Linked DNA regions of Homo sapiens: region 2 is reported to be linked to region 1. Evidence: microRNA targets listed by miRTarBase, many of them from high-throughput screens and not tested one by one. Region 1 holds a microRNA gene; the other region holds the end of a gene's coding sequence.
Evidence for each region. The annotated mature microRNA hsa-miR-548g-3p reads AAAACUGUAAUUACUUUUGUAC and lies in region 1 at 2,149-2,170, shown strand. An mRNA with a match to its seed (bases 2 to 7 or 8) in the 3' UTR can be bound and repressed. Matches are read on the target gene's strand: a 7mer-m8 pairs with bases 2 to 8, a 7mer-A1 pairs with bases 2 to 7 and ends in A, and an 8mer does both.

Region 1 (3,411 bases):
AATACAGTATGGCTATGAATTATCTTAAGAATATATATTGACTTAATAAAAAAGAGGATTTGAGACATTTCTGAAAAATGACATATTTCTTATAAAGGTAACAAGCAGATCTCATCATTCTGGATATGTGTTTTGATTTATATTGTTAGGTGTGTATATTCATGTAAAGCCTATCAAGACAAGATAGATTTATTTTTAAATGAAAAGAAATGAAGTGCCAACTGTGGATTTGAATACATTAAGTGAAAAAAATTGTCCAAATGCCTTAAGTTTATTTAACTATTATTTATGAAGTTCAAAAGCGTTAAAAAAAAAAAAGGACCAAGGAAACTCATTAGATATGCTAGAAGGATTGGTATTCCAGTACTAAATTATAGTGTGAAATTATGGAGGGGAAAAACACATTTTTAAGCTCAGGCCTTTTGAAAGAATAAATAAGGTACATGTAAGATAGAGGTTTCATAACTATATATGTATTCCAAGCCAGGAGATACTAATCTATGCATATTGATATTATTCGCCTGCTGTGATCGTGGTGATGATTGTCACTACCCCTAGATGTGAGAGGTACAATAATCATATTATAACTGTTGAGTCTGCCCACTCCCCAGTGTTTACCAGGTCCACTAATTTACTCCATCTATTATCGATATTAAGATATAAGCTGCCTTCTGTGGTCATATGCCAACATTCTTCAGGTTAGAACTTCTATTTGCAGTGATCTGTGGAACTTAAAGCAACCTCAAACAAAATTAGAAAGTTTTGAAAATCCAACCACCTCTTTACTGTCCTTGCCATAATAGCCACCAGTGTCTTCTCCTTTGTGCACTCTAGGTTTCCATCCTCTCCTGGAGGCTAAATGCTCTCATTTTTCTTACACTCCCCATTTTCAATAAAACTAACAATATGGCATTAATTATTCATACTAATCAGTTAATTAATTGCTGTGTGAAATTGAGTTGCAAGAAAATATGAATTCCTCCTGGAATTAAAATTGCAACTTTTTCTTTGCTTATCTGAAACATAAAAAAAGTCTTTTATCTGTGATTCTAACATTTAAAAAGATGTTCATTCAAAAATTCCCCCCTTCAAGGGATGTCTGCCATTAAGTGAAGGATGACAGACACCTAGACTTCTGTGCGTGTAATTTCCTCATCCCCATCCCACTAGAGAATGGAAATGCTAAAATGGCAGTATTACCACCTAGCTGAGATTGACATAAAAAATTAGTTTGTCCTTAGGGAAGATTCAAGAGCTTTTGTACGTGTTACAGCTTTTAGAATAATTATTAAGAAGGCAAGGAGAGCCTTCTAGCTGGTATAGCTTTTGCTAAAACATCTCACAGAGTTTTTAAAATGAGACACGTACATGTAACCACTTCTATCACATAGACTTTTCTGGAAAATTCCTTAAAAATGAATATACAAAGCATTATTTGAGCAACACAAATTCAGAAATAATATGAGAGTTTATAAATAACAGTCTTCCTTGCCACTTTGACTATGTATGTGTTCGTGCATAAAACCTATTAAATTCTAATGTGATAAGCCATTATGTAAGCTTTGCTGAACCTGATTTTTGAAAGATTTTGTGAGAGGAAACAAAAAACGTGATTATGAAAAGAGGGTATTGTCATTATTTTTAAAAAACTAATCTAGGTTTTACTTAATGCTTCAAATAAATTATAACCTGTTCAGTTTCCATTATCATGGTCATGAGAATGGATTATCTCCAATGATTAGCTTCAACTTGGAGCATTACCTATTTTTTTTCTAAATATATGATTACTTCAGAGTAGAAGATTACTAGTAAACAAAAATGGATTCATCGATACTTCTTTTCTCTCTCTACCTAAGACAGGGTTTGGATAGATCCAGTCGGAAGCCATTATTTCCTGCCTAAGCCTTGGTTTAGCGATTAGAGAAATGATAATTAACATTTGTCTAGTCATATTAAGTATATCCAAAGCTATGCTATAATTTCTAAGTTGATATAACAAAAGTTAAAAACTTCTTGTAAATACAGATAAGCTTATCACTAAAATCTATGAACATTTACACTTAGCAATTATTAATCCTATCTACCAACATACTTACTATTAGGTTGCTGCAAAAGTAATCATGTTTTTTTCCATTGTAAGTAATGGGAAAAACTGTAATTACTTTTGTACCAACCTAATAGCAACATCAAATTATATTTGATATATAGTCATTGTGAGATATATATATATATATATATATATATATACGTATAAAATACACATATATCTCTCTATATGAACAAATATTAATGGAATACATTATCAAAAACAATTAATGGCACTGGAGACTCAATAATGATCATACAAGGTCTGGCCCCAGATCTCATGAAACATATTCTGTAGAGGCTGGCAGCCAAGAAAAAAAAGAACACAAGAAAAATACCGGATAGGAATATAGTTTTTGAAGAGATTAAAATGTAATGTGATAGAGAATGGTTGAGGGGAGGCTACTTTAGACTTTGTGATCCAGGTAAGACTTTGAAGGTTGGTACCATTTAGTTTGAGATTTGAATGACAAGAAGGTACCACTATTTGCAGATCACAAGGAAGTGTGGTTCACGGATTAGGAACAGCTAATGCAAAGGCCCAAAAATAGGGACAGTTTGGCTTGCTGGAGGAACCAAAAGGCCAGGGGGACTGTAGAGTTGCAGGGTGGTAAGTTAGATGGCTGAGGTCTGAGATGGGGTTGAAATATAGGTAGGAGACTGATTACATATTGTAGTGTCAGTCAGGGCTTTGAATAAGGGCTTTGAATTCTAGACTAAGTGCAAGACAAAGCCATCAGATTTTATGTAGGTGAGAGATAGGTCAAGAAAACCTATCAGGAAGGCCACTGGAGGAAGAGAGGACAGTTATTAGGCCAGTGAAGTTGGCCAGTTAAGACACAGTAGTGTCTTAGACCAGCTGGTAGTTGTGATAAAAGTATACTTTACTATCTTAGCCATTTAGTTATTTTAAAAACCACTTCTCTGTTTAGTTTTAGTTCCTATTTTTTTTTCCTTTTGACAGTAAAAGTGCTTTTTCCTTTGGAAATAGACTGCTTCAATTTGTGCCCACAGTTACTATTATTCAAGTTGCATCTAGGAAATAATATTTATCCCATAAACCATCAACAATTATGCAAAACAAGAAATATTAAAAATACAAAGATAATAGCGTGCCCTGATTTCTGCCTTACATAAAATCCTCTCCAGTTTGCCTAAGGAATAAGGGCTTGCTTTCTCAAACACTTATTTATGTGAACTGGGGCAATATACTTTTCTTTTCTGTTCTCTACTTTATAGTTTTGTAAAACAGCAATAGTGTCATGAGGCTGACATACCTCTGAAAGATACTAGATGAGATAGGGTATAAAAAGTTAGTTTGTGAAT
Region 2 (3,411 bases), not on the chromosome of region 1:
TGCAGCCCCGCTTGGTAGCCATACATGGCTTCTGAGCACTGGCTACTGTATTAACTAGGGTAGATACATAGAAAGTGGGCAAGTGGACAGAAAATCTCAAGTTGTAAAACATTCCCCCTGAGCATTTAGGTGCGGGACTTCCCTATTGGCTGCAGAGGCTGGAACTAGGAAGTAGAAATCTCTGCGCTCCCCAAACAATGAAGTTCACTCGCTTCCTATGAGTCATTAGCCACTCAACGAAGTCCTCACTTAACGTCATCAATAGGTTCTGGGAAACCGTGACCTTAAGCGAAACGACGTATAAGGAAACCAGTTTGTTTAAAGGACTGTTATTACAGGATCTGCTTGTTTTGCTTAAGTCCGTTTCCAAGCACCTATACAAAACGCTGAGGATGCACTGTGCTTTGAAGCCCAACTCCTCTTCCAGCACCGGCAGCAACCCTTGCGTCATTTGTGACTCCTTGGGAGGGGGAAGAGGGCTGTGGTCACTCAGTGCCCCATGACGAGCACATGGCCCGGCACAGGTGTTCAAGGAAAGTGAATGAGCAAGTTGAGGCCACAGACACCCGAAAACAACTCATCACAGACATGGTCTCCCTGGCTACTCTTCCTACCGGCCAGCAGACCCTGGTTCCCATGTCCTCTCCCCCAAGGAGTCCACCTGACTCCTCCAGGCTGTCAGGCACCGCTTGAGTCCCACAGCCTCTTGTGCTTTTCCCACAAGCGGCCACCCTGACTCCTTAGCTCCTCATGTTGAGGGGCCACAGGGTAGAGATGGGGCCTCTTGAGCAGATCTGTGACAACCTAAACTAGTAGTCAAGAACCTGGGCTCTAGGTCGGGCGCGGTGGCTCACGCCTGTTAATCCCAGCACTTCGAGAGGCCAAGGCAGGGGGATCTACCTGAGGTCAGGAGTTCAAGATCAGCCTGGATAACATAGTGAAACCCACGTCTCTACTAAAAATACAAAAATCAGTCAGGTGTGGTGGCACTTGCCTGTAGTCCCAGCTACTCAGGAGGCTGAGGCAGAATTGCTTGAACCCGGAAGGCGGAGGTTGCAGTGAGCTGAGATTGTGCAGCTACACTCCAGCCTGGGTGACAGAGCAAGACTCCGTCTCCAAAAAAAAAAAAGGCGGGGGGGGGGGGGCAGGTGTGGCGGCTCACACTTGTAATCCCAGCACTTTGGGAGGCCATGGCGGGTAGATTACCTGAGGTCAGGAGTTCCAGACCAGCCTGGCCAACGTGGTGAAACCGTCTCTACTAAAAATAGAACAATTAGCTGGGCAAGGTGGCAGGCGCCTGTAATCCCAGCTACTCGGGAGGCTGAGACAGGAGAATTGCTTGAACCCGGGAGGCGGAGGTTGCGGTGAGCCGAGATCACGCCATTGCACTCCAGCCAGGGATACAAGAGCAAAACTCTGTCTCAAAAAAAAGAAAAAGAAAAAAAAAGAACCTGGGGTCTTCCACAGCCCGGTTACCTGTCCAAAATGCCACTTTGGGCTCGGCATGGTGGCTCATGCCTGTAATCCCAGCACTTTGGGAGGCTGTGGCAGGAGGATCACTTGAGGTTAGGAGTTCAAGACCAGCCTTGCCAACATGGTGAAACCCCATCTCTACTAAAAATACAAAAATTAGGCTGGGTGCAGTGGCTCACGCCTATAATCCCAGCGCTTTAGGAGGCAGAGTCGGGTGATCACTTGAGGTCAGGATTTCAAGACCAACCTTGCCAACATGTTGAAACCCTGTCTCTACTTAAAAAAAAAAAAATTAGCTGGGTGTGGCAGGCGCCTGTTCAAGCAATTCTTTCCTTCAGCCTCCCAAGTAGCTGGATTACAGGCGCCTGCCACCATACCTAATTTTTGTACTTTTAATAGAGATGAGGTTTCACCATCTTGGCCAGGCTGATCTTTAACTCCTGACCTTGTAATCCACCAGCCTTGGCCTCTCAGAGTGATGGGATTACAGTCGTGAGCCACCGTGCCCGACTCTCCTTGTTTTCTTTGTATTAAAGATTATTGGCTAGGCATGGTAGCTCACACCTGTAACCTGGACACATTGGGAAGATGAGGCAGGAGGATTGCCTGAGGTCAGGAGACCACGCCTGGGCAACATAGTGAGACCTGTCTCTACAAAAACAAAAATTCAGCTGGGGGTGGTGGCTCTCGCCTGTAATCCCAGCACTTTGGGAGGCCCGGGAAGGCGGATCACTTGAGGTCAGGAGTTTGAGACCAGCCTGACCAACACAGTGAAACCCATCGATACTAAAAATACAAAATTAGCATGGCGTGGTGGTGGGTACCTGTAATCCAAGCTATTTGGGAGGCTGGGCTTGAAAAAAATAGACATCCACAAGGATGAGCCATATATCCGCCAAGGTCTGCAGCCACTAATGGCCCCAAACGACTGCCATCTCAGCTTTGCCTGCACACTGGACTCTACTGGAGGTGTAGAGACAGAGACCCCCTGCCTTCTGCTTCCACTCACCCACACCAAGCCCAGCGCGACCACTTCTGGGGAGGGTCAAAATCCAGACTGGCAATAGGTCCAGGATGTTTACTGATTTCTGTCTGGTTAAACATCCAATACCAACACATAAGGCCACACACAGTTCTTGAAACTTTAAAATCCCTCAAAAACTGTTTATTATACAAGTGAGTTTTGAGTCACGATGGGCTTATCGGTAGGATTTCTGGTAGCGAGCGCGGGCACCAGGGCCTCCAAACTTTTTGGACTCGCAGCGACGAGGGTCAGCTACCAGCAGGGTCCGGTCATACTGGATGAGGATGTCTTTGATCTCCTTCTTGGAAGCCTCATCCACATCTGGCAAGAAGAGCAGGGACGAGGATTTAGATAATCACACAGAGTCCTTGACTTGATCCCCACACACCCATCTACCTCATGGGAAGGACCCATGCTCACTCACATTTCTGGTAATAGGCCACCAGGGCTTTGGAGATGGACTGACGGATAGCTGTGAGAAAGACACACAATTAAAGGGTACAGGAGCGCTGTGAAGGCCTCCCTCCCAGAGCCACCTCCTCCATGCGCCCAGTTCCTGGGACTCACCATAAATCTGGGCCACGTGACCACCACCCTTTACACGGACACGGATGTCTACACCAGCAAATCGCTCCTTGCCGAGAAGCAGAACTGGCTCCAGCAGCTAAAGGAATGGGGAATGAACAGGGATTTAAGTTACATGCTGGGCAGCTTAGCCATCTCACTGGGCTTCTTGTTTCTGTGGCTTCTGCCACCACTGGCCTTCAAGTACTAGTGGATGGGGGTCAGGGTGTCACTCCAAGGCCCTCTACAGACCCAGAGAAGAGGAAAGTCAAAAAAGCCAGATATGAGACTGCTGAAGTGGTGTTAAGAAATATAGGCAAGGTAAAGGGAACAAGATCTGGGCTCCCTCC

Region 2: miRTarBase lists RPS16 as a target of hsa-miR-548g-3p. Seed matches in the 3' UTR shown: 7mer-m8 at 2,632-2,638.

The regions. Positions count from the first base shown.
Region 1 is chrX:32,640,245-32,643,655 of GRCh38, reverse strand. It overlaps MIR548F5 (microRNA 548f-5), which reads left to right and starts at 2,097; the gene lies at 2,097-2,182. All of the region lies in intron 11 of DMD (dystrophin), which reads left to right.
Region 2 is chr19:39,430,601-39,434,011 of GRCh38, forward strand. RPS16 (ribosomal protein S16) reads right to left here. Exons shown (of 5, transcript NM_001020.6): 3 at 3,065-3,161; 4 at 2,922-2,969; 5 at 2,537-2,818. The coding sequence ends at 2,673. Among named protein-coding and RNA genes, the nearest start is that of RPS16, 3.6 kb to the right of the region's middle. RefSeq lists an enhancer at 844-963.